2 linked regions of the Homo sapiens genome follow. The protein of the gene in region 1 purifies or fractionates together with the protein of each later gene. This does not show direct contact. Each region holds a gene or a part of one and is shown on either strand. Other genes may lie near its edges. The genes, in order: MYH8 and SOD2.

The links.
Region 2: the proteins of MYH8 (region 1) and SOD2 purify together in Homo sapiens (co-immunoprecipitation; one large-scale study listed by IntAct). This does not show direct contact.

Annotation. Positions count from the first base shown.
Region 1 is NC_000017.11:10,411,772-10,415,594, forward strand, and holds part of MYH8 (myosin-8), read right to left. Parts: intron 3,810-3,823; coding exon 3,701-3,809; intron 3,614-3,700; coding exon 3,521-3,613; intron 3,409-3,520; coding exon 3,345-3,408; intron 2,714-3,344; coding exon 2,615-2,713; intron 2,525-2,614; coding exon 2,421-2,524; intron 2,270-2,420; coding exon 2,131-2,269; intron 958-2,130; coding exon 839-957; intron 749-838; coding exon 599-748; intron 1-598. UniProt on the Homo sapiens protein: Muscle contraction.
Region 2 is NC_000006.12:159,672,643-159,676,465, forward strand, and holds part of SOD2 (superoxide dismutase [Mn], mitochondrial isoform A precursor), read right to left. Parts: 3' UTR 1-3,823. UniProt on the Homo sapiens protein: Destroys superoxide anion radicals which are normally produced within the cells and which are toxic to biological systems.

The sequences.
Region 1 (3,823 bases):
CCCTCGTCAGGTGTGTGAAAGCAGGGACCTGATATAGTATAGCAGTTGAAGATCTAAAAGGTCTTTGTAATAATTTACTCCTTTATTTTATAGATGGTGAACTGATGCCCTGGAGGTAAAATAGTTTATGTAAGACAAATCTGGAAGAGGAGAGACAGACTATCATCTGTCTCTAGGCTTCTACCTTTGGGCCTTTTCTTCTCTATGAAGAAGCCTTGTGTATGGATCAAATGCTGTAGATCTGGGTTGCTGTCCTGGATTTGTCTTATGCACCTGTGGGATCTTTAGCTAGTGTTTTGATTTCCCTGCATCTTAGTTTCTTCTATATAAGTTGGGGGAATATTAGCTACTCCTTGGGTTGTTTTGAAGATTAAATATGGTAACGTTTTGAAGTCCCTAGTGTACACTGCTGGCCCAGTGAGCGTTAGCTATTATTAGTAGTACATTATGTTACCTCCTATTTTGGAGATAACCTTTGTTCTAGGTGCAGTGTTGGAGCAAGTAATATGGACGCTATAAATGTGGATGAATAATGATAATACCTAATATATCAAAGCCCACAATTGCCTCCTTCTTAATTCTTGTTAATATAACTCACATCAAAGATTTCAAAGCCAGCAATGTCCAAGACCCCGATGAAGTACTGCCTGGGCTGCTTGGTGTCCAGCTGCTGGTTGATGCGGGTGACCATCCACAGGAACATCTTCTCGTAGACGGCTTTGGCCAGAGCACCCACCGCATTGTACACCTTCACAGATAGAGTAATGTTTGTTGGTATTGTTAAAGACATGCCATGAAGGCCTGAGATGTGTGTGATTCATTGAGGTCATGCACTTACCTGCTGCACAGTCTGGCCTTTGGTGACATACTCATTGCCAACCTTGACCCTAGGGTAGCAGAGGGCTTTGAGTAGGTCTGCAGAGTTCAGACTCTGGAGATAGGCTGCCTTGTCAGCGACTGCAGAGACACAGTTCAGGACATGTTGTTTCATGAAGGATATCCTCTTTTACCTAATCTTTCCATTTTTCTCCAATTCAATCTATTATTTAAATAAAAAGCTTAAATAATTCTATAAAAGGCCAAATGAGGTTTTCTAACCTTAGAGCATGTGGTTGCCAGTAAATGGTTGATTGGTTATACTGATCTTTAGTGATTTATTTCAAGTAGTTTTTAAGAAATTTTTCATCAACTGTAAACATATGTAGTATTTATTGCCGTCTTGCAGTTTTTTGTAAGTAAAAGCCATAGTCCCTGTTTTTAAGACACATTAGGTGTAGTTGGAAGGATAAGATAAATATTCACTGTTAGAGAGGGTAAAAGTCAGAATATTTTGATTCTTATCTTAGTTTTTCACCTCCCTATTAAACCTTGCTGGATTAATTTCTTTATCTACAAATGTGGAGATTAAAATTTACTGCATGATCCCTACAGAATCCCTTTCTAAAATTCTGTCGGTGACTATAACGTAAATAAATGCCACATGTCAGGTACACCAGTAACTGCTGAAACATTTAGAGGAGGAAGAAAGAATGTCAATTCGAGGTGGTCAGGAAAGGCTTTAAGGAGCGATAACTGTCTTTCTGGGGTAGATCCTGTATATTGCGTGCTCTTTCCATACGTAGAATATATGATCTTTTTTCTCAATTCCTTTTTTTAACTCTTACTTGCTGCCTATATTGTCTATGGATTTATATACAGACAATACACACTTGCTTACAGATGACTCTAGGGGTATCTTTCTCCCCAGCCCTGTATTTGGGCAGATTCTCTGCTGTCAGTTCCTAGGGTCTTCCTATCTAGTGCTGAAATAGAGCAGTCTACAGTTATCTACATATACCCACCTTCGTTGCCAAGGCCAACCAGGAGCACTATTATATCTCATTCTATCTCATAGTTTGTGCTTATAAGTGGCTATTGGGGTTTGTTTGTGACTTATTTGGGCTGGATGGAAATGATGGAGACATGGAGATGTAAGGAAGAGAGGGGGTGAGGAAAGCATGCAGTGTGTGTAAATGTGTATATGCCCTTCACAAGTCGCAAGTCCAGCCACAAAGGAGATGTGAGTGTAAAATAGGATTTTTTTTTTTGCTACATTCTCTCATTAAACCCAGATAAAGTTTCATTTGGTACCTTCTGTGCCATCTGGCTCAGCTTGCTCCTCACGCTGCTTTTGCTTGAATTTCATGTTCCCATAATGCATCACAGCCCCTGTGAGTTTATAGATGGACACTTTCTCTTCAGGAGTGAAGCCCAGGATGTCAATGGCACTCTACCAGGAAAAATGAGAGGACAAAAGTTAGGGCTGAAGAGACTAACTTATAAGAGAATTTATACATATCCTAAGGTAACCACACCTACAGTAGTTTGCTATTGTCATTTCCATACATAATGGATTTTTAAAATTAGTGTTTTTGACTTACATCAGTGGCCATCAACTCTTCTTGGTCATCAATACTGGGAACTGTGATCTCCCCCTGACTGACGAAGGCATAGTCATATGGGTTGGTGGTGATCAGGAGCATTTCTGGGTCACAGAATTCAGGGCATACATTTTACATTAGACATTGTTAATAAAAATATTAACTTCTATCTATGACTTTAAGTTCTTTCTTACCAATTAGATCTGGCTTCTTATTGGAAGTGATCTGATAAAAAATATGGTAGCTTCTTTCCGCCTTTAGCTGGAAAGTAACTCTGGACTTTTCTAAAAGATCTGGAGAGGGAAATAGATATCGAGTTTGAAAAAAGTATCAATGCTTCTGAGATAGTAAATGAACCTCACGTCTTTGGTCAAATTTGGAGCATTACATTTGGCTCCAATGAGATTTCAACTTGATGACCAATTGCAGATAGACAGTGATTCTCACTGTCTAAGGGCAGCAACTGAAGCATACCTGCTCTAGGACAAATATATTTTTCACATGAAGGATCCATGACCTCTGTATTTTAGTTGATCCCTAATATCCCCTCCTTCTTTGGATCACCTAGGATTCACTCTGGGTGGTGAGGGCCTACCTTGGAAACATCTACCAAAACTCAGATCAGGAGCAAACCACAGAGATGTATTGGAAACCCATAAGTAGCCCAGTTTTTGTCCTGGAAAAAAATCATAGTTGCTTCTGAGGCAGGAATTTCTCTAGGATGTGTTACAGAATCATCAAGTCTGAGATTGAGATAAAGGGAGCACTCAGTGGATTATGGGTAAGCCTAGCATTAGCTTACAGGCAGTACTGGCAGCAGACTACCCTTTTAACAGGCTTCATGCACAGCAAGGGTGGCAAAATATCCCTGCAAATGAAATCACTTGTCTCTCTGTTTTGATTTTCAATGGTCCTGTTACTCACATGTTTCTATATCAGCAGATGCCAGCTTCCCTGTAGTACCAAAGTGGATTCTAATGAATTTACCCTTGAAAAGAATATTTAGTATTAGAAAACTGAAACACAAAGAGAGATGCAAATGAAATAATAATTCAGACGTGGCTACTCTGGAAGTTAGGGGTTGAGACCAAGAGACTCACAAAGCGAGAGGAGTTGTCATTCCTCACAGTTTTGGCATTGCCAAAGGCCTCCAGTAGGGGATTGGCGCTGATGATTTGATCTTCCAGAGTCCCCTGCAAAGGAAGGAGCAGTTCTCACATCTGGGACTCCAGATGTCTGAGAGCCTTGACAGAGGTTTTGACTCTGGCTATCAGACCTACCTGCATTTTGCCAGATTCATCCTTCTTCTTCTCTCCAGTAACTGCAATTGTTGCAAAGTATTGGATGACACGCTTGGTGTTCACAGTCTTTCCGGCACCAGATTCTCCGCTGTCAAACAGAAA
Region 2 (3,823 bases), on another chromosome or scaffold:
AAATTGTAAAGACCATTGAGGCTAGGAAGAAACTGCATCAACTAACGAGCAAAATAACCAGTGAACATCCTAGTGACAGGATCAAATTCACACATAACAATATTAACCTTAAATGTAAATGGGCTAAATGCTCCAATTAAAAGACACAGACTGGCACACTGGATAAAGAGTCAAGACCCATCAGGGTGCTGTATTCAGGAAACCCATCTCACGTACAGAGACACACACACATAGGCTCAAAATAAAAGGATGGAGGAAGATCTACCAAGCAAACGGAAAACAAAAAAAAAGGCCGGGGTTGCAATCCTAGTCTCTGATAAAACAGACTTTAAACCAACAAAGATCAAAAGAGACAAAGAAGGCCATTACATGATAGTAAAGGGATCAATTCAACAAGAAGAGCTAACTATCTTAAATATATATGCACCCAATACAGGAGCACCCAGATTCATAAACCAAGTCCTTAGAGACCTACAAAGAGATTTAGACTCCCACACAATAACAATGGGAGACTCTAACACCCCACTGTCAATATTAGACAGATCAACGAGACAGAAAGTTAACAAGGATATCCAGGAATTGAATTCAGCTCTGCACCAAGCAGACCTAATAGACATCTACAGAACTCTCCACCCCAAATCAACAGAATATACATTCTTCTCAGCACCACATCGCACCTATTCCAAAATTGACCACATAGTTGGAAGTAAAGCACTCCTCAGCAAATGTAAAAGAACAGAAATTATAACATACTGTCTCAGACCACAGTGCAATCAAACTAGAACTCAGGATTAAGAAACTCACTCAAAACCACTCAGCTACATGGAAACTGAACAACCTGCTCCTGAATGACTACTGGGTACATAACAAAATGAAGGCAGAAATAAAGATGTTCTTTGAAACCAACGAGAACAAAGACACAACATACCAGAATCTCTGGGACACATTTAAAGCAGTGTGTAGAGGGAAATTTACAGCACTAAGTGCCCACAAGAGAAAGCAGGAAAGATCTAAAATTGACACTCTAACATCACAATTAAAAATATTAGAGAAGCAAGAGCAAACACATTCAACAGCTAGCAGAAGACAAGAAATAACTAAGATCAGAGCAGAACTGAAGGAGACAGAGACACAAAAAAACCTTCAAAAAATGAATGAATCCAGGAGCTGGTTTTTTGAAAAGATAAACACAATTGATAGACCGCTAGCAAGACTAATAAACAAGAAAAGAGAGAAGAATCAAATAAATGCAATAAAAAATGATAAAGTGGATATCACCACCAATCCCACAGAAATACAGAGTACACAGAGAATACTATAAACACCTCTATGCAAATAAACTAGAAAATCTAGAAGAAATAGATAAATTCCTGGACACATACACCCTCTCAAAACTAAACCAGGAAGAAGTTTAATCCCTGAATAGACCAATAACAGGCTCTGAAATTGAGGCAATAATTAATAGCCTACCAACCAAAAAAAGTCCAGGACAAGATGGATTCACAGCCGAATTCTACCAGAGGTACAAGGAAGAGCTGGTACCATTCCTTCTGAAACTATTCCAATCAATAGAAAAAGAGGGAATCCTCCCTAACTCATTTTATGAAGCCAGCATCATCCTGATACCAAAGCCTGGCAGAGACATAACAAAAAAAGAGAACTTTAGACCAATATCCCTGATGAAAATCAATGCAAAAATCCTCAATAAAATACTGGCAAACTGAATCCAGCAGCATATCAAAAAGCTTATCCACCATGATCAAGTGGGCTTCATCCCTGGGATGCAAGGCTGGTTCAACATACACAAATCAATAAAAGTAATCCAGCATATAAACAGAACCAAAGACAAAAACCACATGATTATCTCAACAGATGCAGAAAAGGCCTTGGACAAAATTCAACAGCCCTTCATGCTAAAAACTCTCAATGAATTAGGTATTGATGGGACATATCTCAAAATAATAAGAGCTATCTATGACAAACCCACAGCCAATATCAGACTGAATGGGCAAAAACTGGAAGCATTCCCTTTGAAAACTGGCACAAGACAGGGATGCCCTCTCTCACCACTCCTATTCAACATAGTGTTGGAAGTTCTGGCCAGGGCCATCAGGCAGGAGAAAGAAATAAAGGGTATTCAATAAGGAAAAGAGGAAGTCAAATTGTCCCTGTTTGCAGATGACATGATTTTATATTTAGAAAACCCCATCATCTCAGCCCAAAATCTCCTTAATTTGATAAGCAACTTCAGCAAAATCTCAGGATACAAAATCAATGTGCAAAAATCACAAGCATTCTTATACACCAACAACAGACAAACAGAGAGCCAAATCATGAGTGAACTCCCATTCACAACTGCCTCAAAGAGAATAAAATACCTAGGAATCCAACTTACAAGGGATGTGAAGGACCTCTTCAAGGAGAACTACAAACCACTGCTCAAGGAAATAAAAGAGGACACAAACAAATGGAAGAACATTCCATGCTCATGGATAGGAAGAATCAATATCGTGAAAATGGCTATACTGCCCAAGGTAATTTATAGATTCAATGCCATCCCCATCAAGCTACCCATGACTTTCTTCATAGAATTGGAAAAAACTACTTTAAAGTTCATGTGGAACCAAAAAAGAGCCTGCACTGCCAAAACGATCCTAAGCCAAAAGAACAAAGCTGGAGGCATCACGCTACCTGATTTCAAACTATACTACAAGGCTGCAGTAACCAAAACAGCATGGTACTAGTACCAAAACAGAGATATAGACCAATGGAACAGAACAGAGCCCTCAGAAATAATACCACACATCTACAACTATCTGATCTTTGAGAAACCTGACAAAAACAAGAAATGGGGAAAGGATTCCCTATTTAATAAATGGTGCTGGGAAAACTGGCTAGCCACATGTAGAAAGCTGAAACTGGATCCCTTCCTTACACCTTATACAAAAATTAATTCAAGATGGATTAAAGACTTAAATGTTAGACCTAAAACCATAAAAACCCTAGAAGAAAACCTATGCAGTACCATTCAGGACACAGGCATGGGCAAGGACTTCATGTCTAAAACACCAAAAGCAATGGCAACAGAAGCCAAAATTGACAAATGGGATCTCATTAAACTCAAGAGCTTCTGCACAGCAAAAGAAACTACCATCAGAGTGAACAGGCAACCTACAAAATGGGAGAAAATTTTTGCAATCTACTCATCTGACAAAGGGCTAATATCCAGAATCTACAAGGAACTCAAACAAACTTACAAGAAAAAAACAAACCCCATCAAAAAGTAGGTGAAGGATATGAAGAGACACTTCTCAAAAGAAGACATCCATGCATCCAACAGACACATGAAAAAAATGCTCATCATCATGGGCCATCAGAGAAATGCAAATCAAAACCACAATGAGATACCATCTCACACCAGTTAGAATGTCAATCATTAAAAAGTCAGGAAACAACAGGTGCTGGAGAGGATGTGGAGAAATAGGAACACTTTTACACTGGTGGTGGGACTGTAAACTAGTTCAACCATTGTGGAAGACAGTGTGGCGATTCCTCAGGGATCTAGAACTAGAAATACCATTTGACCCAGCCATCCCATTACTGGGTATATACCCAAAGGATTATAAATCATGCTGCTATAAAGACACATGCACACGTATATTTATTGTGGCACTGTTCACAATAGCAAAGACTTGGAACCAACCCAAATGTCCATCAATGATAGATTGGTTTAAGAAGATGTGGCACATATACACCATGGAATACTATGCAGCCATAAAAAAGGAAGAGTTCATGTCCTTTATAGGGACATGGATGAAGCTGG